7 separate regions of the Homo sapiens genome follow, and all the other regions are linked to region 1. Evidence: fine-mapped expression QTL. A gene starts in region 1. Each other region holds a variant in brackets. All regions are shown on one strand. Distances are from middle to middle.

Evidence for each region. PIP is the estimated chance that this variant, and not a neighbour inherited with it, causes the effect.
Region 2: its variant is fine-mapped to the expression of RNF213 in monocytes after interferon gamma (Fairfax 2014, PIP 0.95).
Region 3: its variant is fine-mapped to the expression of RNF213 in lung (TOPMed, PIP 0.92).
Region 4: its variant is fine-mapped to the expression of RNF213 in whole blood (TOPMed, PIP above 0.99).
Region 5: its variant is fine-mapped to the expression of RNF213 in testis (GTEx, PIP above 0.99).
Region 6: its variant is fine-mapped to the expression of RNF213 in tibial artery (GTEx, PIP above 0.99). The same link has a PIP of 0.9 or more in atrial appendage, breast, coronary artery, esophagus muscle, thyroid and tibial nerve.
Region 7: its variant is fine-mapped to the expression of RNF213 in monocytes (Fairfax 2014, PIP 0.95).

What each region holds. Positions count from the first base shown.
Region 1 is chr17:80,259,164-80,263,360 of GRCh38, reverse strand. It overlaps RNF213 (ring finger protein 213), which reads right to left and starts at 2,509. Exons shown (of 68, transcript NM_001256071.3): 1 at 2,459-2,509. RefSeq lists silencers at 1-57, 1,632-1,771, 2,152-2,501, 2,781-3,130.
Region 2 is chr17:80,371,861-80,376,057 of GRCh38, reverse strand. It overlaps RNF213 (ring finger protein 213), which reads right to left. Exons shown (of 68, transcript NM_001256071.3): 47 at 4,073-4,184; 48 at 3,324-3,537; 49 at 2,893-3,083; 50 at 1,469-1,600; 51 at 188-298. The region is part of intron 1 of RNF213-AS1 (RNF213 antisense RNA 1); the gene reads left to right. Among named protein-coding and RNA genes, the nearest start is that of ENDOV, 41 kb to the left of the region's middle. RefSeq lists an enhancer at 3,091-4,197. The variant G/TG (reference allele first, on the strand shown) is at 2,054.
Region 3 is chr17:80,284,519-80,288,715 of GRCh38, reverse strand. RNF213 (ring finger protein 213) reads right to left here. Exons shown (of 68, transcript NM_001256071.3): 4 at 353-901; 5 at 1-83. Among named protein-coding and RNA genes, the nearest start is that of RNF213, 26 kb to the right of the region's middle. RefSeq lists an enhancer at 3,422-3,982. The variant C/T (reference allele first, on the strand shown) is at 2,504.
Region 4 is chr17:80,349,589-80,353,785 of GRCh38, reverse strand. It overlaps RNF213 (ring finger protein 213), which reads right to left. Exons shown (of 68, transcript NM_001256071.3): 30 at 3,880-4,016; 31 at 3,390-3,485; 32 at 1,983-2,101; 33 at 727-846; 34 at 120-274. It overlaps RNF213-AS1 (RNF213 antisense RNA 1), which reads left to right. Exons shown (of 2, transcript NR_029376.1): 2 at 1-1,956. Among named protein-coding and RNA genes, the nearest start is that of ENDOV, 63 kb to the left of the region's middle. The variant T/C (reference allele first, on the strand shown) is at 2,103.
Region 5 is chr17:80,413,486-80,417,658 of GRCh38, reverse strand. ENDOV (endonuclease V) reads right to left here and starts at 2,492. Exons shown (of 10, transcript NM_173627.5): 1 at 2,409-2,492; 2 at 1,838-2,009. The coding sequence starts at 2,464. It overlaps RNF213-AS1 (RNF213 antisense RNA 1), which reads left to right and starts at 2,491. Exons shown (of 2, transcript NR_029376.1): 1 at 2,491-2,730. RefSeq lists an enhancer at 1,970-2,059. The variant C/T (reference allele first, on the strand shown) is at 1,981.
Region 6 is chr17:80,293,454-80,297,650 of GRCh38, reverse strand. RNF213 (ring finger protein 213) reads right to left here. Exons shown (of 68, transcript NM_001256071.3): 9 at 2,648-2,931; 10 at 1,838-2,094. Among named protein-coding and RNA genes, the nearest start is that of RNF213, 35 kb to the right of the region's middle. The variant A/G (reference allele first, on the strand shown) is at 1,650.
Region 7 is chr17:80,364,398-80,368,594 of GRCh38, reverse strand. RNF213 (ring finger protein 213) reads right to left here. Exons shown (of 68, transcript NM_001256071.3): 42 at 4,042-4,162; 43 at 747-847; 44 at 452-634. The region is part of intron 1 of RNF213-AS1 (RNF213 antisense RNA 1); the gene reads left to right. Among named protein-coding and RNA genes, the nearest start is that of ENDOV, 49 kb to the left of the region's middle. The variant A/G (reference allele first, on the strand shown) is at 2,276.

The DNA.
Region 1 (4,197 bases):
GGCAGGCGTGGGGCAGCCACGTGCTGTTCGGCAGGGTCCCACGGCCTGCCCTGAGCAAGGCGCTCAGCCTGCTGATGCCTCACCCTCCTCATCCTCTTAAGGGGACTAAAGCACCTGCCCCACAGGTGATGGGGCCTGAGCAGGCAGCCCAGGGCTACTGGGCTGGCAGTCAGATTCCTAGTAATGGGGGGAGGCTGCCATCCACAAAGCGCGCCACTCTGCACTGACCACCTGCCCTCAGAACAGCCTCTGCGGTGGATGGCATCAAACCAGACCAAGGCCAGGACTCAGGCCTCCGGGGTCACTTCTTGCATCCAGGGTGAGAGTGGAGATGGCGTTTGGGCGCTTGGCCACCTAACAGTGGAGGACCTGACTCTCTCCCTCCCCAGTAAGAAGCCTCAGGGCACACTGGCCCACCCACCACCTTCTTCTGCTGGCTTGGAACCAAAGAACTCCACTGGGGCAGTGGCTGGAGCGGCAGCTGACTGGTGCCTTCAGCAGCCAGGAGGACACTCAGGCCCCCTCCCTGCCCTGGCCCTGCCCTCTCCTCCCACTGGGGTGGGCTCACTCAGGCTGGGCCTGAACGAGGGACGGAGGCACTGGGTGGGGTTCCCTGGCTTGACCTGTGTGGGAGACTAATCTATGCCACCCCAAAACAGATTCTGTGGTCAATTTTGAGATGGCTATTCAGAGCAACCACATACTCAGGAGTTCTGGGAAGCTATCCTTTTGTAAAAGGCTATAAAGGAAATCCACACCATGAAACAGCAGAATGGAGCAGAAGCTCTCTCTGAGGCCCCATTATCTGCCTAGAGGGATCTAGGAACGGTCCCAGGGACACACAAGAGGAGTGCCTGCGGCCTCGCCAGTTCCTCTGAGAGCAGCTCTGAGATCACCTGAGTGATTATCTGCACAACAAGACAACCCTGCACACCTCCCCTCTCCAGCCCCAAGCCCCTGTCCCAATGCCATAAAAACATCAATCATCTGTCTTCTGCAGTCTTCTCTTTGATGAGGTTCCCAATAGGTGTATGGGACAATTTGCATCCCTTTTCTCCAGGTCTGCTGCCCTTTTATTCCAGAGACTAAAATTATCTCTCCTTCAGAGTAGAAGGAGAGTTTAAAACTCCCCTACCCCTGCCACAGCCAAGCCCTGGCTCCCACCGTACCTCCTCCCCTCCACACTCTACCTGAAACAACCACCAGTGGACACTCCCTCCCTCAAACACCTTCAATGACTCCCCACCGCCCAGGCCTCTTTCTTTCCACCCGAAGTGTTTCCTTCTCCAATGCTACACTGGGGAACCACAGACCAGAAAACTCGAAAAATCCTCCAAAAAGCATTTTTTGTTTGTTTGACAGTTTCACCCAGGCTGGAGTACAGTGGGCAATCTCAGCTCACTGCAACCTCCGCCTCCCGGGCTCTAGCGATTCTCCCGCCTCAGTCTCCCAAGTAGGTGGAGTTACAGGCATGCGCCACCACACCCGGCTAATTTTTTGTGTTTTTAGTAGAAACGGGGTTTCATGTTGGCCAGGCTGGTCTCGAACTCCCGACCTCAGGTGACCCACCCGCCTTGGCCTCCCAAAGTTTTGGGATTACAGGCATTAGCCACTGCGCCCGGCCCCCTAAAGCATCTTATTGTTCCATCTGCTCTAGGGGCCGGAAGACACAAGAGAGAGCCCCAGGCACCCAACACTGTTGCATTCAATCCGCTTCCTGTCTTTTCTCTGACATTTTTTCCCAAGCACAGACACTGCCACCCAAATCAAAGCCCATCCCCCAACCACAACCAAAGTCAACAAGGTGGGGGCAGGGAAGGGCCACCACCATGTTTGCACAGCTCCTTCCCCTCCCGCCCTGGACTCCCCCAGGGCCCGGCCCGCCGGCTTGCAGGCAGCCATCCGGGAGGGGTGCCCACCCTGGCCTTGAGCCCCGCGCTCGGGCGACTTCGCCAAGTCGGAAGGACGCTGCGCGGTGCGGTTCAGACGGGGCGATGCCTCCCTCGTAAAAGTTAGGAGTCTGTTTTTGCAACTTCACTTTTCCGTTGTTGCCATTCGTACAGGCGCAGGATTCCCGGGCGGACCTGCAGGCCCGGGTCCGGCTGTCCCCTTCCACTACACCCCCCGTGCCCCGGCCACTTCCCGGGGGCAGCACTGCCGGGGCGCAAAGCCTCCTCCGCGCTCTGCGCTCCGGGGATGTCGCCGGGGTCCCAGGCGTGCCCGCTGCCCCCACCCCGACCCCTCCCGCAGCCGGGGAACAGGGTCAGTGGGCGCCGCGGGCGGGGCTGGACCGGGCACCCCGGCGGCGAAACCGAAACTTGGAGCCGGCAGGAAGAGGCGGCCGGGAGGGGCATCCGGACGCAGGCGCCGCTCCCCGGGACCCGGCCCGCCGGCCCGCGGGGCCCACTGTATCCTAGCCCGCTCCCCGCCCCGGGAGACTCTCCAGGCCCGCTCGCACCTGCGGCCCCCGAGCTCGCCGCCTGCCGCGCGCTGTCGCCCCTCGGGTCACGGGGCCCTGGGCCCCGCCCTGCCCGCCGCCGCCGCCGCCGGCCCCGCCCTGCCCGCCGCCGCCGCCGCCGGCCCCGCCCTGCCCGCCGCCGCCGCCGCCGGCCCCGCCCTGCCCGCCGCCGCCGCCGCCGGCCCCGCCCTGCCCGCCGCCGCCGCCGCCGGCCCCGCCCTGCCCGCCGCCGCCGCCGCCGGCCCCGCCCTGCCCGCCGCCGCCGCCGCCGGCCCCGCCCTGCCCGCCGCCGCCGCCGCCGGCCCCGCCCTGCCCGCCGCCGCCGCCGCCGGCCCCGCCCTGCCCGCCGCCGCCGCCGCCGGCCCCGCCCTGCCCGCCGCCGCCGCCGGCCCCGCGCAGGCGTGTGCGGAATTCCCCGCCGGTGGCGCCTCCCAGTGACTCCGGGCCCCCAGCCCCCGGGAGGCGCCTCGGGCCGCTGCGCGCCGGGTACAGACGCGGGAGGGGCCTCGGTTCCCGCCAGGCGTGGGGCGCATGCGGGTCTCCCGGAAGCCCAGACCCCGGGCAGGCCCGAGCAGCCGAGTGGGGCGGGACAGGCGCGCCCCCCGCCCCGGCGCCCAGCACCTCGGACAGTGTCTGCGGCCGCGCAGAGCCGGCGGCCAGCCTGGGAGCGGCCCAGAGGGCGCCCGGCGGGTGCAGTGGACGTCGTCAGCGCGCCGCGTGGGGGCCTTTGCAGATTAAGGGACCTCCGCGGCCCCGCGCGGAGCGCTCTGTCACTGATGATGGAGGGGCCACGGCGGTCCGCACCATCCCCCGTGCCTCAGTTTTCCCATCTGTGAGGCTCATGGTGTGACCAGGGACCTCCGTTTTAAAATCACCCACTTTCTTTTTCTTCCTTCTCCTCTCACCCCTTCATCCCGTCCCTCTCTGGACACTGCGCCCCTCTGCGCATTCCAGAGGGGACCCTCATCCTGAAACAATTCCCGGCGCGGAACCCCAGCTGAATGCTCCTGCTTGGGGCGGGGGGTCGCCAACAATTAGTCCAACATCCTCGACAGCCACCCCTCCTAACCGACAACTGCCCACGACAGCCATGGGAACAAGACACAGACCCTGCCCTTACCCCACTCCCCACGGTGCCCACGGCAAGTTTCCCTAGAAGAACTCGATGGCAGCCTGGGCAACATAGAGAGACCCCATCTCTACAAAAAAAATCATTTAAAAAAATTAGCTGGGCGTGGTGGTGCACCTGAAGAGGCTGAGGCAAGAGGATCGTTTGAGCCCAGGGAGCTCCAGGCTGCAGTGAGTCGTGATCATACCACTGCACTCCAGCCTGGATGACAAAGTGAGATCTTGCCTCAAAAACTAACAAACACACAAAACCTGAGGATAAATTTTTAATTTTAGGGTGGCACTTTATTTATTGTTTGTTTGTTTTTTGGAGACAGTCTCACTCTATACCCCAGGCTGGAGTGCAGTGGCGTGATCTTGGCTCACTGCAAACTCCACCTCCCAGTTCAAGTGATTCTCATGCCTCAGCCTCCCGAGTAGCTGGGATTACAAGCGCCCGCCACCAAGCCTGGCTAATTTTTGTATTTTTAGTAGAGACGGGGTTTCTCCATGTTGGCCAGGGTGGTCTCAAACTCCTGACCTCAGGTGATCCACCTGCCTTGGCCTCCCAAAGTGCTGGAATTACAGGCATGAGCCACTGCGCCCAGCCAAGGTGACACTTTAGAACGCTA
Region 2 (4,197 bases), 110 kb before region 1:
TTCATTATAATTCTACAAGCTTTGGGTTAAACAGCTTGGTTATGTGTTCCTCCACATAACAAGGTTGAGAACCTCTATCCTAGATAAAAAAATTATGGTATGATTTGTGTTGATAACTTTCATTCTATTCAATAAAATCCCTCCAAATACTGAGACTTTGAACACAGCCCTGCAGGCGGTTACTCACCTCTGGCGTGGGGTGGAGGCTTGCATTGTGGGATCTGTACAAAATAGCCACCTCTCTAAACAGTGTTAACAGGAAGTAGGCTGACTGCTGGCTTTGGGGGGTCTTGCAGGCCTGCAAAATCAAGGGTATCAAGTAAGAATTTAAAAGCTCAACACATCTTTTTTTTTTGAGATGGAGTCTTGCTCTGTCACCCAGGCTGGAGTGCAGTGGCATGATCTCGGCTCACTGCAACCTCTGCCTCTCGGGTTCAAGCGATTCTAACTCAGCCTCCCGAGTAGCTGGGACTACAGGCACACGCAACCATGTCCGGCTAATTCTTTTTTTTTTTCTTTTAGTAGACACGGGGTTTCACCATGTTTGCCAGGCTGGTCTCAAACTCCTGACCTTGTGATCTGCATGCCTCGGCCTCCCAAAGTGCTAGGATTATAGGATAGACGCCCCCGCACCGCTGCCTGCCAGATCTACCTAAGGGCCAGAGGCCCACGAAGTTTGCATGTGAAAAGAAACTTTTCACATGCCTCAGCCCTCAACCCACCAAAAGGGAAGGAGCCTTTTCCAGGCCTGGACACCTGGGGTCATGCCCCACATGGGCAGTCTTCTGGCGAGCAACTTTTGGGCTACAAAGTTCCTGAAATACTCTCAGATTAAACTCAACGCATATTTAGCAGCCAGCTTAATGACAGAAGCAACGGAATCACCATCTGTTCTTCTGACTCCTTCACTGGTCTTAGAAACTTCTGAGCAGAAAGAGGATTTTCCATTTCCTCTTTTCCTGGCACAGGGACTCAAAAAGGAAGCAAGACCAGACCAATTTAAAGGTTAGATTCTAAAAACATCTTTATATTTTTTAACTTCCCACACTACACCAACATATGTATTTTTATTAAACACACATGCATATCTGAATTATGAATACATCTAGGTATGAATTTTGCTATTAATAGTTGTGTCAGCATCTTTCTTAGACTGTTTTCCAGCAGGGTCTCAAAGGAAGTAATGGGCATAAATCAAAAGGCGCTGCTGATGGACTTGGCAGATCAGCAAGACACAGCAAATCTGTCAACCCAGCTCAACTGTCATAGCTGTCCTGTTCCAGCCACTGGTTCACGCACACTAGCCAGGTGCGCCCTGGAGGCTGTGGGCACGTGACTTCCAATACAGTGTCACGTGATGGGCTGCATCAGTGGTCCATCACCCTGCATCATTTGACATAAACCAGGGAACATGCAGGCTCCAAGGGATGCCACCTGGTATCAGAGAGAAGCCACGGGCCCATCCTACCTTCAGAGCAGTCTTAATGCCCAGTGGCTTGCACTCGAGGACAGCTTTGGCCACAGCATCACGGAGAGCCTTGTATTCATCGCCGTACACCAGGTACCTATCCATCTGGCCTGGGTGGTCCTGCCGCAGCCCCTGGAATACAGAGGTTAGTTGGGGGTGAACAATGGGAGGAATGTCTTGCAAAGAACCGTCTGAACGGGTACAGGAACCAGGTGGTTGATCATTCGAGGTTTAAAGGCAGCCAAGCTGGGATTCCCTGACCTGGCCTGAGGCAGGACAGTCTGGTGCCCTCTTCGCAGGGAGCTTCCTCCTCAGTAGACGAAGAGGTGCAAGTGCAGGGAATGCCTGCCGACGGCAGCGCTACCTGGGGAGGTGCTTGCTTCCTCCGTTTGCGGCGCACCGCACCACACCTGAGGCCGGGTGGCTCAAGTCATGTCAACTCTAAACCCCAGGTGGTAGTCAAACAGTGCCGGGGTTCTTAGTACCATTTTTGTATCCCCTGGACAATAAGAATTTGTTAATTTCTGGGTATCTGGAAAGGACCACTGAGAGGCCTTGAAGCCTCTTTTTTTTTTTTTTTTTTTT[G/TG]AGACGGAGTCTCGCTCTATCGCCCAGGCGCTGGAGTGCAGTGGTGCAATCTCGGCTCACTGCAACCTCTGCCTCCCGGGTTCAAGTGATTCTCCTGCCTCAGCCTCCCGACTAGCTGGGATTACAAGCACCCACCATCATGTCCAGCTAATTTTTTTTTTCTTTGAAGTAGAGACAAGGTTTCACCATGTTGGCCAGGCTGGTCTTGACAAACTCCTGACCACAAGTGATCCGCCTGCCTCGGCCTCCCAAAGTGCTGGAATTACAGGTGAGAGCCACTGTGCCCAGCCTGGCCTTGAAGCCTCTTCTGCAATTCTTCTATTCCTAGTTCTTGCTCTTGCCTGTCTCTGCCTGCCAGAGGTAAAAAGGTCGCACCTTGCAAGCTGAACTACGTTTAATTCGCTGAAAGCAAAGGCCACAAGAATGTTCTACTTTCCTTGAGTGAAATTCAATTAGAAGTGATGCCTAATTAAAGAAGCTCTGAGGTGAGTGCCCTCACCTTGGCCCTACAGCAGGCAGTGTAAACATGATCACAAGCTGGGGCAAATCAGCTGAAGCACAGAGACAAAGGACCAGACAGACAAGCGGCAGGTTTCCTTCCTGGCTCTGGGGATGCTAAGGGCAGGCGGAACGCGGAAGCAGTGGCACCATCCCTGGGTGTGAGGGTGAGGTGTGGGGGTGTGAGGGTGAGGTGTGGGGGTATGAGGGTATGTGGTGGGGAAGGTGTGAGGGGGTGGGGTGTGGGGGGGGTAGGGTGTGAGGGTAGGGGGGTGTGTGGGTTTGGGGTGTATGGGGCTGTGGGGGTGCATGTTTGTGTGCTGCCCGGCCCCGCTTCTCACCTGCTGCTTGACAACGTCCTTGGGAAACACCCACTGGTGCGGGCGGCCGGGCTTGGAGAGGCCCTGCACGAACTCCATCCCCCGCTGGCTGCTGAGCTTCCGCACCAGGTACACCCGGTGCCAGTCGTTCTCCACCCGGATACAGAACTGCTTGACTTGCTGCAGGTAGCACTGCTTCTCCTTGGCCATCTCTGAGAGGCCAACGAGAAAGCGGGTGAGTGGCTGGTGACTTAGGGCATTTATTGTAGGACACAAGGCCAACCAGAGGGCATCGGACCTACCCACAGGCATTCACAGAAACACATCCAGGGGAGAGGGGATGTAGAAAAGCCCAGTAGTAGTCTATTCGAAGAACTAGTTTCCCATACTTCCTGAATTTCTAAATAACGGAGTCTTTAAACCCAAAGGAAAGCAAGGCAGAGAAGACTTGCCTGGGCCTCCCTCAGGCTCCGAGAGGAAATCTGCAGCTCTGTCGAGGCAGAGGCGGATCCGGGCCACCTCTTGCAGGTATTCAACCGAGGCCTCGTTGGCAGGCTCTCGGCCCCGGCTTGCTGGAGAATATGCCTTAAGGAAACGACCTTCCTCTTCTAGGTGGTTCAGTTCATCATTTCTGGAGTAAGCACTGGTCTTCTCAAGTATTGAATCCTGAGGAACAAGGAACAAGAAAGAAAAGGATATTATTTTTTTAAACATGGATGCCCCAAGCTTCTACAGTCGCCAATGTGACTGTGGAGAAGGAAGGATAGAAGAATGTTACTGTAGGTTTCAGTGTAAATTTCTTGACTTATGGAAACCTAACATTCCTTTTTATTTTAAGGACAAGAAGGAGGGGAAAAGTGAACCTATGAGGAAAAAAAATTATCTAATTTATTTACATTATAAAAATTTTGGATATAAAAATATGAAGATAAAAAGTATCCATAATGTCCCCACTCAATGATAACCACTGTTAACTTTGGCAGTATATTCTCCTAGGCTGTTCTGTTTTGTATGTATATGCAAGTAAATGCCAAAATATACGTTGCTGAAGGCAGAAGCCGCGTCTTTGAAACCTTTCTTCTTTTCTGCACGGAACAGAGCATTCGTTAATTATACTGACTAAAATTATATTCTGTAAATTTTAAACCATGTGGTTCAGATAGTTTCCAAAAGAAATTCAGGGAAGAGAGAGTTCACTTACCTCCAGGCAGTTGATGAAGAGCATGTACAGTTCAGTTTTATCTTCAGTTATGAATGCTTTCTTTTTTAACAGGGTCAAATATTCCTGAATATAATCTTTTACATCATGAAAGCTGCAGAAAGAGA
Region 3 (4,197 bases), 25 kb before region 1:
TGTTTCATTCTCTGGGTCTTCTCTTTCATTTCCTTCCCGGCCCCTTTAACTGCATTGGCTGGCTCAGCTACAGCATCAACTGCCTGAAAGACCCCAAACACCAGAGCCAAGGTGACAAAATGGGCCAGGGTGACTCCGACTCAATGGTTTAAGGGGCAGCATCTGCCACAAGCCGAGGGACAGGGTGGGCTGGCATCCCCAGTGGAGGGGCAGCCCTCCGACTCCCACCCAGGGAGCAGGGCCCAGAGGACGCCCCTCCCCCCGGCAGGGAAGCAACGCCAGCACCTTGCAGCAGAGCCCAGGTGCCGAGGGCTCAGTGCCACTCCCAGGCCATCTCTCCCGGATGACTCACCATAGAGGCTGAGGCCCCTGCCTGTTGCTCGGTGGTCTGCAGTTCTGTCCCGGGCTCAGAGCTGCCTCCTTTTGACTCAGGCAACAGGAGCTCCTGGGCAGCATCTTCAGTCCTAGAATGGCCTTCACCAGCAGAGGTGGGGGGACCGGTCCCCTCCTGGGACAGGCCTCTGCCCCCAGAGGGGATGGAAGCGTCCTGGTCCTCCCCTTCCGTGTGGTCCTGGAATTGCGGGCTGCTCTGAGCCTCACTTCCTGTGGCCACTCCTGCCTCTCCCAAAGCCTGGGCCTGCAGGGGGCTGTCGCCAACCTCGGTGGGCGCGGAGAGGCCGTCACCCTCCAGTGGCGTGGTGGCTGTGCCTGGGGGCTGGCTCGGCTGGCCAGTGGGGCCACTCTGCTGGGCTTGGCTGTGGGGCAGGGCTGTGTCCTGAGGCCACGGGTTTGAAAGCAAAGTCAGGTGACAGGGGCTGGCAGGAGAAAGGGGCAAGGAAGCCAGCTCTGAGGAAGCGGACTTGTTCCCCTTCTTTTTCTTCTTCCTTTTCTTCTTTTTGCTCTAAACAGAAAGAGAGACACTCACTTTATTTCTTAGATTTACTCTACTCTAGCCCGTGTTTCCCTCCAACTTTCTCTTCCGTTCCTCAACTACATCAAGCTTGGCTCGACCAAAGTACCTAACATCTGTTAAATCTGCAATTTCCTGGAAAGAATGAAATTAAGAAACAAAAGTGGGGGGTGGGCAGGGTCGGGGCAAGTGGCCTTGAAGCGCTCGCCACACTCGGCACGGTCACGGCCGGGCTGAGACCCTCACACGGGCTCACTGCTTATTGGACATCCACTGAGATGGATTTGTATTTATTTATTTATTTGAGACAAGGTCTCCCTCTGTCGCCCAGGATGGAGTGCAGGGTGCAAACCCAGCTCACTGTAGCCTTGACCTCCTGGGCTCAAGTGATCCTCCCCCATCAACCTCTTGAGTAGCTGAGACTATAGGTGAGCATCACTACGCCCAGCTAATTTTTTGTTGGTTTGTTTTTTGTAGAAACGGGGTTTCACCATGTTGCCCAAGCTGGTTTTGAAATCTCAGGCTCAGGCAATCTGCCCATCTCGGCCTCCCAAGGTCCTGGGATTACAGGCGCGAACCACCATTCCCAGCTGGTTTTAAAAAATGCTCTGTAGAGGCAGAGTCTCCCATGTTGCTCAGGCTGGTCTCCAACACCTAGGCTCAGGCAATCCTCCCATCTTGGCCTCCCAAAGTGTGGGATTACACGCGTGAGCCACCGTGCCTGGCCTGGTTTTGAACATTAGAAAGCACACACAGGCTTTCCACGTTTTATGCACCTCTATAAAAATATTTCGTACATAAAATTTGAAATGAGAAGGATGAGACTAAAAAATGAGTAGCAGCTCCCACCGCACCCTCAGCAGGCACAGCCAGGCTCAAAGGCACATCCAGGTTCAGGTGTACGGTCCCCATTTTGGAACCAGGACTGCGGCTGGTGGGAGGAGGCTGCCAGGACCCTGGGACCCCACAGGCATCTCCCAGGGGGCAGTACTCAGGGGTGCGTGTGGATCAGGTCAGTACAGGAAAGTGACTTGTAGATCCCCTGAAACCTGGTGGTGTGTGATGAGGGCCCCAAACTGCCAGGCAGCAGGTGTGAACCTGTGCCCACTCCACGCCCCCCACCTCCTGCACCCACATACCTGGGAAGACCTGCACACACTGAGGTGCAGCCCAGGGGCTAATCCACCCTCTCCTCAGCAACTGGTAACAAGGGGATGAGGAAGCGCCACAGGATCCCATCACTGCCACTTCAGGAGCCCCTCGGCTGACGGTCGGCCCCTGTGTGGCCCAAGGAGGAGGCTGCGTTCCCACCCACCCAGGGCATGACGAGGCCGCAGCTGGACAGGGCTGCATCCCAGGGCTTCCAGGAGGCCAGGCCGACACTGCAACCCCTTCTCTATCACACATGGCCACACTTCCTGCCAGAACCAGGGCCAGAAATTCCGATTTTCTCCTCCTTTTTAAATTCAGAGGAAACCCATGCTCAGTGTACACAAAGCACAGGAGGCGCCCCCACCCCCCGACCCTCCGACCCATAACATCTCCCCAGGCCACAGCTTGGCTCCAGCCTCCCGCTCGGCCTGCGTCCAACAC[C/T]GGCCTGCGTCCGACACCAACCCCAGGCCACCAACCCACCACACCGCTGAGAGCACCTGGTCCCATTCCAGGGAGCAAGCACCACTGCTGAAATGGCACACTTGGTGCGTTTGGGTGTGGACAGAGGAGACTCACTCCCAGCGCAGGCTGACTCTAAAACAGGGCCTCACTGAGATCTGGCCACTGCACTCCAGCCTGGGCGACAGAGTGAGACTCCATCTCAAAAATAAAACAATAGGTCAGGTGCGGTGGCTCAGGCCTGTAATCCTAGCACTTTGGGAGGCCGAGGCAGGCGGATCACTGGAGGTCAGGAGTTCGCCACCAGCCTGGCCAACATGGTGAGATCCTCCCCATCTCTACTAAAAACACAAAAAATTAGCTGGGCGTGGTGGCAGGCACCTGCAATCCCAGCTACTTGGGAGGCTGAAGCAGGAGAATTGCTTGAACCCGGGAGGCAGAGGCTGCGGTCAGCCGATATTACGCAACTGCACTCCAGCCTGAGCAATAGAGCAAGACTCCATCTCACAAAAAAAAAAAAGCAACTGCAGAAGCAGCTGCAGAAGAAGAGTCTGGGGCTGGGGCCCAGCACTGTAGAGTGGCGTCATCAGCAGGTATCAGCCTCTGAATGACAGGCTGGTCAGCTGCCGGGGGACCTGCTGAGAGGGGGAAGCAAGAGGCCGTCAAGAAACAGGCAGGTGCTGCACAACCCTTCACTGCAGGCACCCATCGTCCTCAGTGTGCTGAGGAGACCTGGCAGGTGGGGTCCCAGCCCTGAAGACAGCCTCCCCTCGGAGAGGCGATGACGCCGTCCCTGCCCGGCCAGCTGCCTGGTACCTCCGGGGCTGCCATGCAGTGGCGTCTGGGCTGGGTTTAGAGGGCCTGCCTGAGTTCCCATCCAGCTCACCCCATGCTACAATGGCTGGGCAACCCCAGGTGGGTCACTGAGCCACCGTGGGCCTCAGTTTCCCCATCTTTAAAGTGGAGACAGCAGATGTGTCCACATCAGAGCATCACTGAGGGTGACCAAATGGGACAAAGCACACGGAGAGTTGTAGGACACTGCCTGGTACACGCAAGGCCCCCATCAGTGATGCTGTGGTCATGGTCACTGTCCACACACAGCAGGTGTTTGTGGCCACCTGGTGACAGCGCTGGATGGCCCATCCTGGGGAATGGTCCCTTGGCTCTCCCTGTTATCGGCTGCATGGTTTGAGTAACATCAGCCTTACTCTAGCCCCAAGGGCAGCTCTTGTGCGTGGGCTGGTGTCAACCACTGATGTCTATCATCCTGGCCATAGGGACCCACTGGGGGATTGGCCTGTGAGCCAATCAGAGCCAATGAGATTTGAGGAAGCGCTTCCTCTCTCCAGAGGAATCAATCACCAGAGGAGGCGCTGTCTTGTCCCCTGAAGGACAGAGTAGCAGGTGGATCACAGGGGAAGCCACTGTGTGGCACGAGGGAGTAACGGGAAACAGCTGATGAGAGGCTCAGTGGGGGAGCCGTCCGGAAGGCAGAGTAGACAGGGCCGGAGACGCCTGCACCAAGCCTCACCTACAGGCTCGGGGCTCATCAGGTGTGTCCATAATAAACTTCCTCAATGGGATTAGAAAGGTGGAGCTGGGCTTTCCATTATTTGCAATTCAAAGGCTTTTTTTTTTTTCTTTTTTTGAGATGGAGTCTCACTCTGTCACCC
Region 4 (4,197 bases), 90 kb before region 1:
CATCCTCACCCCTGCACAGCGGCGGCGACTCCTCTAGCTCCCAATGCAAAAGCGTTTAAAGATGCAGCTCAGAAGCATCACCAGCAGCACAAGGGGAGGTCCCAAGAACCAGAACTTACATCACTGCCTCCGAGTTCAGAGGTTTCCTTTCCCACCTTCTCAGAACTTTCTGTTTCCATGGCCTCCTCTGCCACCTCTGCCACCTCCCCTGATGTGCTGGCCTCCGTCTCCATCGCCTCCTCATGGCCGTCTTCCGCCCGGTGTTCCAAGCCCACTGCAGTCGAAGCAAACGTGATTGCGTTACCACTCAGAAGGTGGCACAGGGACTGGCAGCGGTGCCATCTGGGAGTCTGTGTGCTCAGCCTCCGAGTGCAGGCTTCCCCGGCCCCTGCTGTGGTGCTAGGTCCCCAGATGAGAGATCACGGTCATGAAGATCAGCCCCCAAGGCAGCCCCTTCCTTCCAGCCTGGGCTCTGGCGTGTTCTAGGTGCTCACTTCCATGGCTGGCCTGCTCACAGAGCTCTACCTCAGCCTGTGGTAAGCGCACCTGCTCGGCCCTGGTGCTCTATGATGAGCCACCAGTCAGTTCTGCAGATGTGTCCCCGAGCTCCTGCCGAGGGACGAAACACGGTGGCCCTGCTCCTAGTGCCATGTGCACGCCACGCTCCACACCTGCCATCTGCCCTTCCACCACCTGCTCCCCCAGGGGCTCCGCCTCGTGACTCACGCTCAGGCAAGTCTCCGGGCGCGAACAGCTGGCTGATGGTGACATGCTGCAGCCTGGTCACATCAGAAACCATGAGGGTGGATCTCCGGAGGTCATCGATGTGGACAGACTGCCACAGCCCTGTGAAGAGTGAAGCCACCCACAACTGTCTTTGTGTCTTTCCCGGCTGCTGCTCAGCCCTAAGCAGGGACATTGCACACCCTGGCTTGTCATTATCTTGCTGCGCAATGAATGACTGGCACCCTGAAGCCGAAACCCTGGAATGGGCCTGCGCAGAAACCACCCAACCCGATACTATACACGACCCGATTCTATGCCCATCGACAGCTTCACCATAAGCAGCAACGGTAAGACCTGCAATGGCCAGCGTGGGAAGGACGCATGGATAAGGCCTGTGGTTCTTTCACCCATGCATTGTTGTATTTGCTGTATCACAGTTAGTGAGGGGTGGGGGACACTGGCAAGGTCTGCCTTCCATTCTCCACGAAATTATTCAAGTAAACTTACTTTCCTGTTTCTGGAATACCAACTTTTCTATGTCATAAATAGCTGGTGACCATTCCTTGGAAAAAAAGAGATCTGAAGATAGTCCGACCCCCGCCACTCTCCCTCCCCGCCAAACAGGCGTATCGGTGCGTTCCTGACAGTGTCTGTCGGGAGTCGGGAGTCTCCACGCCGTGTGACCTACATGCTAAGAGGTGAGGAGCTTGCCTAGAGTCAGTCCAGGAGAGGTGCACGCAGCCTCCCATCCCAGGATTCATGTTTTCATGGTAATCAGTGGTAAGAAATCTAATTGCATCTGGAAAGAATCCTCTTGAGGTTAACAATAATATTCTAATTTCAGACTGTACAACACAGAACCAAATGAGAAACAGTTCCAACATGACTTAAATAAATACACTGACTGGGCTGGGTGCGGTGGCTCACACCTGTAATCCCAGCACTTTGGGAGGCTGGGGCGAGCGGATCATGAGGTCAACGGATTGAGACCATCTAGGCCAACGTGGTGAAACCCCGTCACTACTAAACATACAAAAATTAGCTGGGCATGGTGGCGCACGCCTGTAATGCCAGCTACTTGGGAGGCTGAGGCAGGAGAATCGCTTGAACCCAGGAGATTGAGGTTGTAGTGAGCTGAGATCGCGCCACTGCACTCCAGCCTGGTGACAGAGCAAGACTCCATCTCAAAAAATAAATAGATACAAATAAATAAATAAATACATAAATAAATACCCTGACTGATGTTCTGATCTCACCTCCGTGGAAGCCCACATAGGCTGTTCCTCTTCCCACCCGGGACAGTTTTGTGATGAAATAGACGAAGATACGGTCCTCATTTTCTCGTATTTTGTTGATTTCATTTATAACAGAATACC[T/C]ATTTAAAGAAAAAAAAAAGAATACCTATTTTAAAAACAAACACACACACAAAAACAAGCAAATAAACAAAGCAAAGCTGTGCAGCTGCAGAAGGGTGTTCTCCGAGCTGTTGGTTCGGTCTCACGGCCACCCGTTCCGATGAGTTTTACATAAACTTCAGAGCCCTGCGATCGTGATTTCTTCTCTCACAAGGGGATGAGAAATCTTCTCTTAGCGGCTCGTTTTCTTCCCCATTCCTGTGTCCTCTGCTTTGAAGTGGCATTCCTTCGTTGACCAGAAACCCTATCTTGTGCTCCTCAATGGGCCTGCCCCGGTGCAGCTAAGGGTGAGGACAGCTGAACTTTCCATTCCTTCTTTTCTCTTAAGCGATGGGGGTCTTGCTGTGTTGCCCAGCCTGGTCTCAAACTCCTGGCCTCAAACGATCCTCCTGCCTCTGCTTCCCAAGTAGCTAGGATTACAGGAAACAGCCCCTGTACCCAGTGGACCTTTCCATTTCAACAAAGAGTTCTGTGCGCAATGCCATTCCCTTCAGATGACCAATGGCCAAAGCCAGTTTCTTGTTGAGATTTAAGCCACGAACTGAAATATGGCATCCAATGCTTCAAAAAGGTCCAGAAATCACTTTTACTTTAAGTAATAAAGGCACAAAGTTAATTCTAAGAGCATCAGACTTCCCCTACAAACACTATAAAAATATCCAATAAATAGGAAAAAAAGCATTTACCTACTGTTGTTTCCCTCGAACTTGAAATAAATTCAAATTGTATAATTCAAAATTAATAATGACCAAAACATGTCTACAAACACAGGCTTCAAAGGCATCCTTTTATAGCTTGTTAATGTTCCATTATTTACACCTCTCGCATTTCACCTTTTTTGTGGGGAGGACAGGCTCTTGCTCTGGCCCCTAGGCTGGACTGCAGTGGTGGGATCGCAGTTCACTGCAGCCTTGACCTCCCAGGCTCAAGCGATCCTCCCACCTCAGCCTTCTGAGCAGCTGGGACTAGAGGTGCACTGTGGAAGGCTAATTATTTTATTTTTTTAGAAATGAGGTCTTGCTCTGTTGCCCAGGCCCATTCCACTATTTTTGTAATGTTATTGGCCTTTTCTTTTTGTCTCTCTTCAGTTTCCCTAATCCCACTTGGGGGAATGAGGCGGGGGAAGAATTGTTATTTTTATTTCTATACTGATTATGATACTATACTGTCTTCAAGGAAAAAATTCTCTAGGACTTCCTACGTTTTGGGTTTTTTACATAGTTTCTGAGAAAAATACTAAAAACATACTTAGCTGAGGCAATGAGCTGGGCGCTACGGATTCCATCTTCAAAATCTGTCTGAAAAATGAGGATTTTACATTTGGCTGTATTCGTTAAACAGTTTCTGAAAGAAAAGGGAAGTTATTCAAGTGAGTTCTCTGTCTTAAAAAAATGGAAAAGAAAATTCCCCAAAGTGATGGGAAACATAAAGGCTACAAAGAAACAGCTACTCAGGTAGGATTTTCTTCAGTAAGAACAGATAGTCCAGGGGAGGAAACCCAAGGAATGCCTCCTAACGAGGTCCGAGGATGGTGCTCTCGGAGGAGGATGTTAGGCCAGACACCGCGTTGCAGAAGATGATGGAGATGAGAGGGATGCTGGGAGAGATTTAACAAGGATCTATTTCACAGTCACGTGACTGTGGCGCTCATTAACCGGCGCGGGTACCATCGCCACGCAGAAGCCACACGGCTGCGGCTGGGGAGGGAGAGGGCAGCAGGGAAGGCAGGGAACCTCACCGGACTTCTTTGAGGAATGAGTACTCGGTGTCAAACTGCTGCAGCCACAGGAGTGTGGGTTTCGGAGCCCTGCCTGTGACCTCTGATTCTAAAATTTCACAGTCGTGACTTGTTAGCAGCCTGGAGAAAGTGGTGATCTACAGAGTTAAGAAATGCAAATTACTTGCCAGACTTCAAGGAAAGGTTGCAAGTCTGCTGCCAGGTTTAGACAGATCCTAGAAACCTGCGATGTTCAGCGCGGTGCAGTTGCCACACAACGGCACAGAATCCAAACCCAAAGGAGTTTCCCAAAACACGGCAGCGCTGGGGCCGAGAGGC
Region 5 (4,173 bases), 150 kb before region 1:
AATTATAACCCATAGGTGATGGTATTACGAGGTGGGGCCTCTAGGGAGGTGAGTGGATCACCATGTGAGAACACGGTTAAGAAGCTGGCCCTGTGCAACCTGAAAGAGCGCCGTCACCACAACCTGATTGCGCTGGCACCCTGATCTTGAGCCTCCAGCCTCCAGAACTGTGAGAAATAAATTCCTGCTGTGGGTAGGCCACCCAGTCTAAGGTATTCTATTACAGCAGCCCAAACGGACTAAGACATGGTGCTGAGGGACAAGTCCTCGTCTTGTGGGATGAGAGGGAGCTTAGTGGAGGACGTCATGTCTAAACTGAGCCCAAAGAGATGAGTAGTAGTTAGCCAGATGGAAACCCTTCCAGAAGAAACATTACTGCAAAGGTCAGGCCGCCAAATACAGCGTAGCAAACACGTGAGGGACTCACAGTGGGCTGTAGGAGGTGGGAAGAACTGAGAATAGTGGTGAGGGCTGAGCCTCCAGCGTCATATTAAATTACGCAGGGGACAGGTCATGACGGGCCTTGAAGCCATGCCAACCAGAGTGAACTTTATTCACCATGAGGTCATGAGAAGGGCACTTCAATGTTCTAAGAGGACTTGTGGGCTGGGTGTGGTGGTTCCCACCTGTAATCTCAGCACTTGGGGAGGCCAAGGTAGGAGGATCCCTTGAGCCCAGGAGCTGGAGACCACCCTGGGCAACATAGTGAGATCCTGTCTCTACAAAAAATAAAAAAATAAGCCGGGTGTAGTGGCTCACACCTGTGGTCCTAGCTACTCAGGCTAAGGTGGGAGGATCACTTGAGTCCAGGAGGTTGAGATCAGATCTTGACAGTGAGCCAAGATTATGCCACTGCACTTCAGCCTGGGCACAGAGTGGGGGAAGGGGAAAGGAAGGAAAGAGAGACAGAGAGAGGAAGGAAGGGAGGAAGGAAGGAAGGAAGGAAGGGAGGGAGGGAGGGAGGGAGGGGACTTGTTGCTTTTGAGGAAAATACTTGCTTTTTAGGAAAATTGGTCTGCTGGCAGTATGGAAAAGAAACCACTGAGGAGGAACATTTGAGCCAGGGCACCCATGAAAATGCTGCTCAGGAACCCACAGGAGTGATGGTGGCACAGCCAGGGAAGGAGCAGAGGGGAAACAGACAAGGGGACAGATTCCAGCGACATTTAAGAGGCAGAATAAAAGCGAGCTAGTGTGCAACTGGACGCGAGAGGAACGGAGGGGCCCAGGAGGATGCAGATCTCCAGCTTGGGCAACTGGGAGCGTGGTGGACAGGTCACTGAGATGAAGAACCCAAGATAACAATCAGACTTGAAGATAAAGCTCATGAGCTGATTCTTAATAGTCACAGAATTCCCTTAATTTTTGCCTTTTTTTCCCTTCCAAGACTCCCCAGACTTTTTTTTTTTTTTTTTTTTTTTGAGATGGAGTTTCGCTCTTGTTGCCGAGGCTGGAGTGCAATGGCGTGATGTTGGCTCACCGCAACCTCCGCCTCCCGGGTTCAAGCGATTCTCCCGCCTCAGCCTTCCGAGTAGCTGGGATTACAGGTATATGCCACCACACCCGTCTAATTTTGTATTTTTAGTAGAGACCGGGTTTCTCCATGTTGGTCAGGCTGGTCTCGAACTCCCGACCTCAGGTGATTCCCCCGCCTCAGCCTCCCAAAGTGCTGGGATTGCAGGCGTGAGCCACCGCGCCCGGCCAACTCCCCAGACTATTAATGACATCCTACAAAACGAGAAGCCGGGTTCTACGCTTGCACTGCTCCCTGTCCCGGAGACCGCACGCCCGAGCCCACCGAGGGGCCCGCCTCGAGCTCGGCGTCCTCCCAGGTTACCTCGAGCTCAGGGAAGCTGAGCACCACCAGGGAAGCACAAGCGCGGACACTGTCCCCTTTCACGAAGGACACGTCAACGCCCCCGACCCTCTGCAGACCCGAGAAGGCGGGGTCTCGCTGCCACGCCTCGGTGTCCCGGTCTA[C/T]GACGTGGGCCTTCAGCCGAGCTTGCTCCCTAGGAGGACAGAAGCGTCAAACTTGGTCGGGGTCACACCTCAGACTCTGCCTCCTCCACCCGCGCGGCTGCAGCGGACAGAGCGCCTCTGCCGGGTCTTCTCCCGCTTCAAGGGAAAGCAAGGGACATACCGCCGAGGCCACAGTCCCTAGGAGCCCAGGCGGCGGAGACCCGCGCAAGCGCAGGCCAGACAAACTGGCCGGAAGCGAGAACCGCGCCCACCCCGCGGACTACAATTCCTGAGATCCCTCCGCTTCCGCGCCGGAAACTGGGCTTTGCTTTGGAGTCTCGGGCGGTGGCAGCTCCGATTCCACAGCCTGAAGACTATGAGCTCGGAGGGTCCGCGAAGGGCCGCCCGGCCTCGGCCCCCGCCTCCTGCGCGTCGCCTGACAGCATTACCGTTTCCACAGTGACAGCGTTTCCTCCGGCGGCCCTCCCGCCGCCTCCAGGGCCATGGCTTCGTCCCGGGCACCCCTTCCGCACGTCACTTCCGGAAGCGACTCGCTCTGACGCCGTCCGCCCTCGTTGCCATGGAGACGCTTGCGCTTTCCCGGGCCGCACTTCCCACCCGGGTCTTCAGAAGCCCGTGGCCGCTGGGTGAGCCCCTGCGTGAACGCACACGCACGCACACGGCTTCAGGTTGCCCCGCGGCGCCGCGCGCGATATCGGCTCGGATCCCGGGAGGCCGTCCGCCCCTTTTTCAGCGGATAGCTGAGGCCAGGTAAGTGACCGCGCGAGGACCCGGGAACTCCGTGACGCCCGTCCCGCCTCTGCTGTCCCCGCCGCAAGCGCTGCGCTCTGCACGGCGAGAGGGGCCTCTTGCCCTGTTGAGAGCCGGCGGGCACGGCACTTCTGCGCTTGGAAAAGGGTGGTCCAGCACTGCAGGTCCCACTCCTTGGCCCGGTCAGCGTCCGCCTTTGCTGAACCCCGAAAGGATTCACCAGGTCCAGGACAGCCCGGCAGTTGCCTCAGGAGCACTTACTGAGCGCCTGTCGTTGACGCCCCCACCTCGATGGCAGCTCAGGGGTGCCCTCAAGCTTTTGAGGGCAGGTGTCGTGTATTTAAATTCTTCACAGTTTAGCGGGCTGGACTCACGGGGGTGCTGCAGACTTGGACGGGGTTTCATCTGGGTCGGACCTTGCTGGGCAGAAAGCTTCTCCTACCAGACAAAGTACGGCGACCTTGGGGGGTCTTGGTTCTTACCTCGTGTTCCTCATTGAATGAGTGTTGGTTCAGTGCTCTCGCTGTGCCAGGTGTTGTGCGAAGTACTGTGAGGGAGAATATGTATTTATTTGTGGGGAGCCGACTTTAAACCGGTGGTTGGGAAAGGCCTGAGAGGCGATATTGAAGACACCTGAAGGGTGAGTGAAAGAGCACGGCGGGTGAGTGGAGCAGCTTTCTCGTGCAGGTCCCGGGGTGGGAAAGAGGTTGGTGTATTTGAAGCACTGAAAGGCAGCCACTGAAGCTGAAGTGTAGCAGTTTAACCCATGGTTTTATATTCTCCTGGGAGGATTCAGAAGGGTGTATGTGTGTATGTATATATAATAGCCTGAATATAAACGTCAAGGGTGTTAGGTTTTGAAGGGAAGGTGAAGGTTAAAGAATGACGCACAGTGAGATTGCCGGCGCGCGGGCGGCTCTACAGCAACACAGGTGTATTGCAAACACCTGTCGGGGGCCAGCTTAATGCCAGAGCCCACCAGCGATTACAGGCTGGGGTACTCATAGGCCTGGGCAGGAGGGATCTAGGCAGTATGGCTTGCTGTCCGGGAAGATGTTAACGTGTTCCCAGGATGAGGTGGTTCCGGCAGAATGTGGTGTTCCTGGCGCTTTGTCCCAGCAGAATATGTTAAGAGGCAGGCTGTTTCTCATGGCTCGAACCCCCGTGGAATGTTTCACTTTGACCAAGGTCTACAAAATGGAAAGGGGCTTACAAAATGACGCAGTTTGGACTAACAAAGGGGAAAATACAGAGGATGAAATTAGACTCTAGAGGTTGAGGCTCAGGAAAGGCTTCATACAGCTTTGGGAACTGACAAGGCTTTGAAAGCAGGGTCAGTTTTCAGCGAATGAGCGTCACCCACTGCACCCTGCGCACCCTGCTCCCCTGCTGCGGTGTCTTTCCCACCAGAGTGTAGCAGGACAAGCCGCAGACAAAACCCCT
Region 6 (4,197 bases), 34 kb before region 1:
CATGCCTGGCTAGTTTTTTGTATTTTTTGTAGAGACAGGGTTTCACTGTGTTGGCCGGCTCTATTTTTTATTTTAATTTTTGTTTCCCAGACTGATCCTGAACTCCTGGCTCAAGCAATCCCTCCTGCCTCAGCCTCCCAAAGCACTGGGATTACAGGTGTGAGCCATAATGCCCGGCCAAAACAACTTTTTTTTTTTTTTGAGATGAAGTCTCACTGTGTCGCCCAGGCTGGAGTGCAGTGGCACAATCTCGGCTCACTGCAACCTCCGCCTCCTGGGTTCACGTGATTCTCCTGCCTCAGCCTCCTGAGTAGCTGGGATTACAGGCATGCACCACCACGCCCGGCTAAATTTTGTATTTTTAGTAGAGACAGTGTTTCACCATGTTGGTCAGGCTGGTCTCGAACTCCTGACCTTGTGATCCGCCTGCCTCGACCTCCCAAAGTGCTGGGATTACAGGCGTGAGCCACCGTGCCCGGCCCCAAAACAACTTTTTAAACGTAAGGGTTGAGCCTATAAACAATACATGGTGAATCTCCTACAGTCAAAAGATATTAATGATTCCTCATACTTTAAGCCCCGGCACTAACTCTGTACATTGCCTTTGCCTCCACTCCTCCTCTTTGTCAAAATGTGCGGCGTTTATTTGGTTGTTTTTTATTTGTAAAACCAGGCCAGGCACAGTGGCTCATGTCTATAATCCCAGCACTTTGGGAGGTCGAGGCAGGCGGATCACAAGGTCAGGAGCTCAAGACCACCGTGGCAACATGGTGAAACCCCGTCTCTACAATAAATACAAAAATTAGCTGGAAGTGGTGGTGTGTATCTGCAGTCCCAGCTACTCAGGAGGCTGAGGTGGGAGAACCACCTGAGTCTGTGAGGCTGAAGCTGCAGTGAGCTGATTGCTCCACTGCACTCCAGACTGGGGGAACAGAGTAAGACACTGTCTCAAAACAACAAATAAATAAATGTGTAAAACTGAGAGGCAGATGTCGTGATAAGACATGCTGGTCAGGAAAGGCTACCTAATGTCATTCTCACGTTCAAATCAACACACGCAGAGAGAGTGCAGAGCTCAGTGGGGTCTGAGCAGGTACCAAGTCAAAGGCCATCGCCTTCTCACCACTGAACATTTCAGGCCCAGGACAGTCACACTGTGTTTCCTGAACTAGACACGGCACAGGCAGGGGCATGGGGAGAACATTCACGCTGCTTCTGCAGATGTCCTTGAGGGGATGAGTTCAGGCTGGCGTCACGCCACAACCTCCTAAACACGCGCACACAGAGGCTGCTCATGATACCACACGAAGCTTCAAAAAGCAGGGTATTCAGACCCAGCACGGTGGCTCACGCCTACAATCCTAGCACTTTGGGAGGCCGAGGTGGGTGGATCACTTGAGGTCAGGAGTTCGAAACCAGCCTGGCCAAAATGGTGAAAACCCTTCTCTACTAAAAATACAAAAATTAGCCATGTGTGGTAGTGTGCACCTGTAGTCCCTGCTACTAAGGAGGCTGAAGCAGGAGAATTGCCTAAACCTGGGAGGTGGAGGCTGCAGTGAGCCAAGATTGCGCCACTGTACTCCAGCCTGGGCCACAGAGTGAGACGCCGTCTGGGGGGAAAACAAAAGGCAGGGAATTCAACAGAGGAC[A/G]GAATATAATAAAAATAAGACAGATGCTAGGAAAAACTACTGACATGACCACAGTGAGTGGTAAAATCACGGGTGGTTTTATTTCTTGCCTGTGTGCTTTCAGTCACTCTAGTCAAGCACTTATTTTTGCAATCAGAGAAAATCATTATAATAGCTATAAAAAACATTTTGACAAAAAATAATAATACCTCTGAGGTATCCCAAGGATGTGGCTTAGGTCACGGTGAAACTCATCTGGTGAGCTGGCATCTGAGGTTAGGAGGTGACACAACCAGTCCAGGCTGCCTTCTAATAAAAGCTCAATTTTTTCCACTACAAAAAGGACAATCAGGCCTGTTTTCAGTTTACTCCTCACTGGGCAGTCCACAGGCAAAAAGTCCGTGCTTTTTCCGTCCGGCAATGGTACCACGTGTTTTTTCAGATGTTGCCACAGGTATCTCTTCACCTGATGGTGGGAGAAGAGGAAGATGCATGAACCATGGACTTGAATTCACCGGCAGTGTCCAGAGCTGCCCCAGCACCACAGCTAGGGCAGCAGACCCCATCCGTGCCCCACCACCACACCTGTGAGAGCCACAGGAGGAGCTGCAGTGCAGCCAAGACCCTGGCATGAGGGCTCAGGCAGGGCCCCTGAGGCTCATCAGGGCTCAGCTTCAGCTCAGAAACAGCTCCAGGCCGGCCTGAAACCCACCCAGGCTGCACCGCAGTGTGGGTAAAGGTGCAGTGACAGAGGGTGCCCCGTTCCTTCCACTCTCCCTCCAAGGCCAGGGGAGGACTCAGGACTGGTGCTGGGGTGGGGCTGAGATTACAACCAGTAAAAGGAGGAAAATGGGGGAGGGCAGAGAAATCCCAAGAGACAGTGGTAGGAGAAAAGGCTGGAAAGTTCTACACATTCCCATTTGCAACCTGGCCCACAGAGTCAAGGGGTCATCCGGCCACTAGCAGGTCAGGTGTGGCTCCTGCCCAGCAGGTAGAGCAGCTGGTGGCAAGCCTGATACCTCTTTCTCCCTGTACTGCAAATCGGTCCACAGCTGTGCCTGTCCTTCATAAATCATAGGCTGTTGCAGGACAAAGCAAAACTGCTCGAACTGGGTGAAGAAGCTGTTCAGGTTGATGGTGTCCCAGGTCTGCAGGATGCTGAAGGTGCTGTCCAGCATGAGCGCAGCGGCAATCTGCTTCCCCTTCACCAGGTCCTTCCTCGGCCCGTCTGTGATGTGGTTCATGACTTTCTGGAGTCTCCCATGAGGCTTCATATAAACTATGTCATAGTACTGATGCCAGTCTAAGAGGGACAGAAGGAACAAGAGCCTACCTAAGACCATCAAAACCCTGGAGACCTAGACACTAGCCTAGAAGGCTGATCACGACTGGTACAGATATGGAGTAAATGGGGCAGAGGAAGGGAGGAAGGGAAAAGCAAAAACCCACACACTGACGACAGCCAGACTCCTCCAACTGACTTCTCATCTGAGGCCAGCCCCGTGCAAACAGACATCCTAGACGTCCCACAGTAATGAGTGGAAAGCCCAGGGTCATGGGATGCAGCGGGCCTGAGACTTGCAACGGATCTCTAACTATGTAGCTCAGCAAACTTGATCAACAACTTCCTTAAACATCATCACAAGGAGGTGGAATGTGTCATACAGAAACCGCATCCCCCCACTAGCAAGTGAGCACTGTCCTGGTCAATCACTGAGTTGGTTTCCTCTGTACTAGGAACGGGACACAGCCCCTGGAGGAAGGTGCAGGCTGCCCAGCTGGCACAGATGGCCCTTGGCATGGTGGCTGACACAGGGCAAGGGCTGAATTCGTGACTGTTCTTAGGCTCCATTGCAAACGATATGAGTGCAGACCTCATTGCAGAAAACCCAGTGAGGTTGACTGTAAAATAATTAGAAAACCCAAGATGTCAATGACAGGGTCAGAGGCCACGTGAAGACCTACAAACAGAAGTAAAAATCAGGCAGAAATGGGAAGCGCCCGGACAGGCCTCCTCAGCCCCCTGCCATGCTTTCGACCCACAGTTGTCTAGACTGGCAGGCCCGCCCACCCCAGCTCTGCACCCTGGGCCCAGCAGGGCCTGCAACTGTTTAGTTCTCAACTCGGTCATCACCTCCTTGTGGAAGCTTCTGCCGACCTCCAGGTCAAATCCCCTATCACATGTTTTTTTTTTTTTAGACTGAGTCTCCCTCTGTCGCCCAGGCTGGAGTGCAGTGGCACGATCTTGGCTCACTGCAAGCTCCGCCTCCCGGGTTCACGCCATTCTCCTGCCTCAGCCTCCCGAGTAGCTGGGACTACAGGCGCCCGCTGCCAAGACGCCCGGCCAATTTTTTTGTATTTTTAGTAGAGACGGGGTTTCACCGTGTTAGCCAGGATGGTCTTGATCTCCTGACCTCGTGATCCGCCCGCCTCGGCCTCCCAAAATGCTGGGATTACAGGCGTGAGCCACCACGCCCAGCCACCACGTGCCCTTTTAACCGAGCCATCAATGCCATGGCATTTATCAGAGCAGGAATTCCATATTTATATATATAGAATTCCATATTTA
Region 7 (4,197 bases), 110 kb before region 1:
CGGGCATGGTGGTGCATGCCTGTAATCCCAGCTACTTGGGAGGCTGAGGCAGGAGAATTGCCTGAACCCAGGAGGTGAAGGTTGCAGTGAGCTGAGATCGTGCCACTGTACTCCAGCCTGGGCAACAGAGTGAAACACTGTCTCAAAAAAAAAAAAAAAAACACTGGCGTCTACATTCCTTGGGCCTCTGGTGAGGACCTTTGTTAAGACTTTCTGGCTTAGTTCCTCTGAATTTGTTGTCTGAAATCTGTATGTGTATGTCTTGGGGAGAGAATAATCTTGAGATACCAGATATTTATGAAAGTACGTAAGTGGCGTCTCTTATGATAGTTCTCTGAGGTCAGGTTTTCTACCAAATGAAGGTTAATAGAGTTTATATTTCTGAATATTGTGTTTGCCAAAAAAGGAAAATGAAAAAAAGGATGCTTTCTTGAGAGAAAGGGTGTTGTACCTGTGCGCTTGGGAAACAGCTGGAGAGAATTCGTCTGGCAAGGCAGTTAAACAGTAGGGGCATATCATCTGCTCTGAGGCAAACCAGGCCCTGAGGCAGCGCAGGCAGTGCACGTGGTCGCAGGGCAGACAGACGGGGTCCTTTGCATCTCCCAGGCAGATGGAGCACGGCTGAATCCCAAACCTAGAATCCAAGAAGGGCAATCAGTTCTGAAGCAGAGAAACTGGCCAGAAGAAGTGAAAACCACGAGAGGTTCAGAATTCTCGCCTTCACAGATCCAAACCTAAGGTCTCACCTGCTGAGGGTCTTGCTGGCTGTCTCCTTGCATTCACAGAGAGTGCGCATCACGGCCTCAAAAGGCCCGTGCGTCTTCACGTCAGAGTTCTCTCGAAGACACTGAAGAAAGGCAGGGACAGGAGTCATTAGCAGGGGGGAGGGCTGAGGGCGGCCAGGCCGGGCGACAGAGGGAGCACCACATTCAGGGCCAAGGCTGCGCCGTGTGTGTGGGGTGTGGGGTGCGAGGCCTTTGTGATCCTGTGTTTAACGCTTGAACTCTGAATGCTCGTTTTGTGATTATGCTGCTTGTCAGGGGACTACATTCTCAAGTTACGATTTTCCCTCTTCTTTTTCTTTTAAGGTCTCCTCCGCTCTCACTAAGATATTTCAAACTTTAAGTAATAATAATGACCATCTGTATACCCCCCACCAAGCTTTAAGAAATCTCAGCATTTATGGAATATTTGCTTTAGATCATTTTTTAAAATTTTTAAATTTTTTAAAATTTTCTTTCAGCCTCCCAAGCTGCTGCGATAGATCATTTTTTAGAGAAACAAAACATTATGCATATAGTTACAACTTCACATCCCTCCGTCCCTCCCCAGAGATAACTATATTTCTAAATGTCTGCTTTTAGGATAGCTGTAAGCATATCTGAACATGGAGTTATTATTTTGAATGTTTTAAAACTTGATATCAATGATACCACGTTGTATAAAGGCTTCTGCAACTCATTCTCTTCATGATACCTTAGGTCCAGATCACTCCTGTACCCACTGATAAAGACACCAGTTACCTGTCTGCTGGTTAATGGGCATTTAGGTTTTTTGCAATTCCTGACAGTCCTGTATTCAACATTCTTGCATATGTCTGAGAGCAAATGAGAAGTTTCTCTAGGATATAGTTAGAAGTGGAAACACTGGTTTTTAGGCAATACACATCATCACTGTACAAGATAGTTTAATGGCTGTACTAATGGAATTTGATGGGCAGGCATGATGTTGGTATAGACATCTTAATATTATGTCTACCTTGGGCATTGTGAGCTCAAGGAGAGTTCCTTCCTGTTCCAAGTTTGACAAGGGTATTTCTTTCCAAATAATTTTATCAAATGCTTTCTCTCTACATTTTGAAATGATCATATAGAGTTTATCTTTTAATTTATATAACTGATGACATTTACAGATTTTTTTTTTTTTATTTTGAGCCATCCTTGAATTGCTGGGATTAATCTTACTTGGAAGTGATGTGTGTATTTTTAATATCCTAATAACTTTGTTAATCAACAACCCAATTCAAAAATGGGCAAAGGACTTGAATGGACATTTCTCCAGAGAAGACAGCAAATGCCCAACAAGCACATGAAGGATGCTCATCATAACTAGTCATTAGAGAAATGCAAATAAAAACCACAATGAATTATCACGGTGGCCATTATGAAAAAAATCAGATAGTAACAGGTGTTGCCCATGATGTGGAGAAATTCAGACCCTGGTGCCTGGCTGGTGGGGATGTAAGAAAGATGCTGCAGCCCCCGTGGAAAACAAT[A/G]CAGTGCCTCTGCATAAAGTTAAACAGAGTTATCAAATGATCCAGGAATTCCCCTTCAAGGTACATATCCAAAACAACTAAAAGCCAGCCATGCCCGCAGTCCCACCCGTGCCATCCTGCAGCAGTTCCGTCGACAACTTCCTGCCCGGCCGAGGGAGCCAGCCTCACGGCGGAAGGCAGGGCTTTCCCCCAAGCCTCTTGTTTCAAATGGTCCCAAGGGCTGCTCTTCAGCGGGGGCTGGGTAGGGGTACAAGTCAGGCTTCCAGCAGGAAAACTAACGAGGTAAGGTCTTTGGCTGTGGTTACCTGCACAGAGATCTGACTGGAAGGAAATAAACCAGAAACCCAGTAAGTTTCTGAGGCCATTTTATCGCCAAAAAAAACCCTCCCCACGTTCCTAACCTCCCAAATCCTGTGGGCATGTGAGCAGGCAGGGGCCAGCTCCTTTACCTTTGGGTTTATGGGCACCTGGCCCTTATGACCCACGCTGGACCTGGCTGAAAGCCCTGTGCATCTCCCAGAGCGCCGAGACATGATGAGACTTGGAGAGGCTGCATGCTGTGTGGGTGTGGGGAAAAGGGTGGAAGGGGGGCACCGGCTGTGTCCTACTATCCTCTCTCCGCCTTTTCCTTCAGCAGAAGAACTCAAGTTCCACCTGGAACATGACCATGCCACGAAAAACTCCTCAGTTTCTTGCAACCAGATAAGGCCGAGTGCCTAAGTTTAGGACCACGAGACACGAGCTGGTGTGGCGTGTGCGTGTCCGGGATTGGGCTCTTAAGGAAAACGGCCTGTCCTCTACCTCCCCTGCTTTCTGTCCCACAGGCTGTGACGCCAGGCCACGGGGTGGAAGCTGAACATTAGGGACAATGAAGGGACAAGACGGAGCGTGGGCACCTGACTCCGTGCCAGCCTCCGGGGAGCTGGTACCTTAGCCTTGGGCTGCTCATACCCATCCTGGGTGGGAAATCAGCTGATACTGTGTCTAAGCCGCTGATGTTTTGATAGGTCAGAGTCAACACATCCAGCATCCATGCTGGCCTCCTTTTAGTAAACCTTCCTGTGCTCCAAAGGTCGGACAGCCAGCGCTGCCTCTTCCAGACCCCCTGGCGGTGAGGGCTCTGGATGTGCTCACGTGAAGGTCACGGGTGCGGGTGAGGCAGAGGCTGAGGCTGTGTTTGGCTGAGTGGCCACTGTTGCTGGACACCACTGCGTGGCCACAGAGGGGCATCACTGTAGGGTCACAGGTTTCTTTCTGCAGACCACCCCACATTAGTAGCTTTATGAAGGGTGTTGAGTGACAGGCATGGTGGCTTCCTGTTCCTTGGTTCTGTTGACAGCACTGTTTTGAAGACCCCAAACCCCGGTGGCATTCTCTGACATCCTTGTCTCCATGACTATGAAAATGGTAACAGCTTCCACAGATGGCCAGGCTAGTGGTCTGTTCTGGGGTCACTCCAAAGGCCAGGTAATCCCTGCCGAAGGTTTCACAAGCATGTTCCCTGCGTCAGCCCCTTTCTGCACACAGTTCCTGGAATCACTTCTAAATGATATGCTCTGACTTAGCAATCAGCAGAGGGTAAATAATTAAACAATTAAACATGGAAAATGTAATGGCCTAGTGATGAAATCACCTTCCTTTGCATGTCTAGACAAAACGGTCAGAGCCAAAAGAGCGTCTCCCAGCCGCAGATCACTGTCAGTGCTGTTCTTCCTTTCGGAAAAGGGTGGATCCGTGCATGTGCTGAGGCCAGCCCAAGTACTCACCTTGTCTAGTAAGAAGACGTGCTCGGTCACCAGCCCCTGTAACTCGGGGACGCGGCTCTCGGTTCCTAGGAGCACGTGCTCCACGAAGAGTGCGGTGGAGAAAATCCGACTCCACTGGGCTCTGTCAAAAGAGGGCGCCACTCACTCACTCACTCG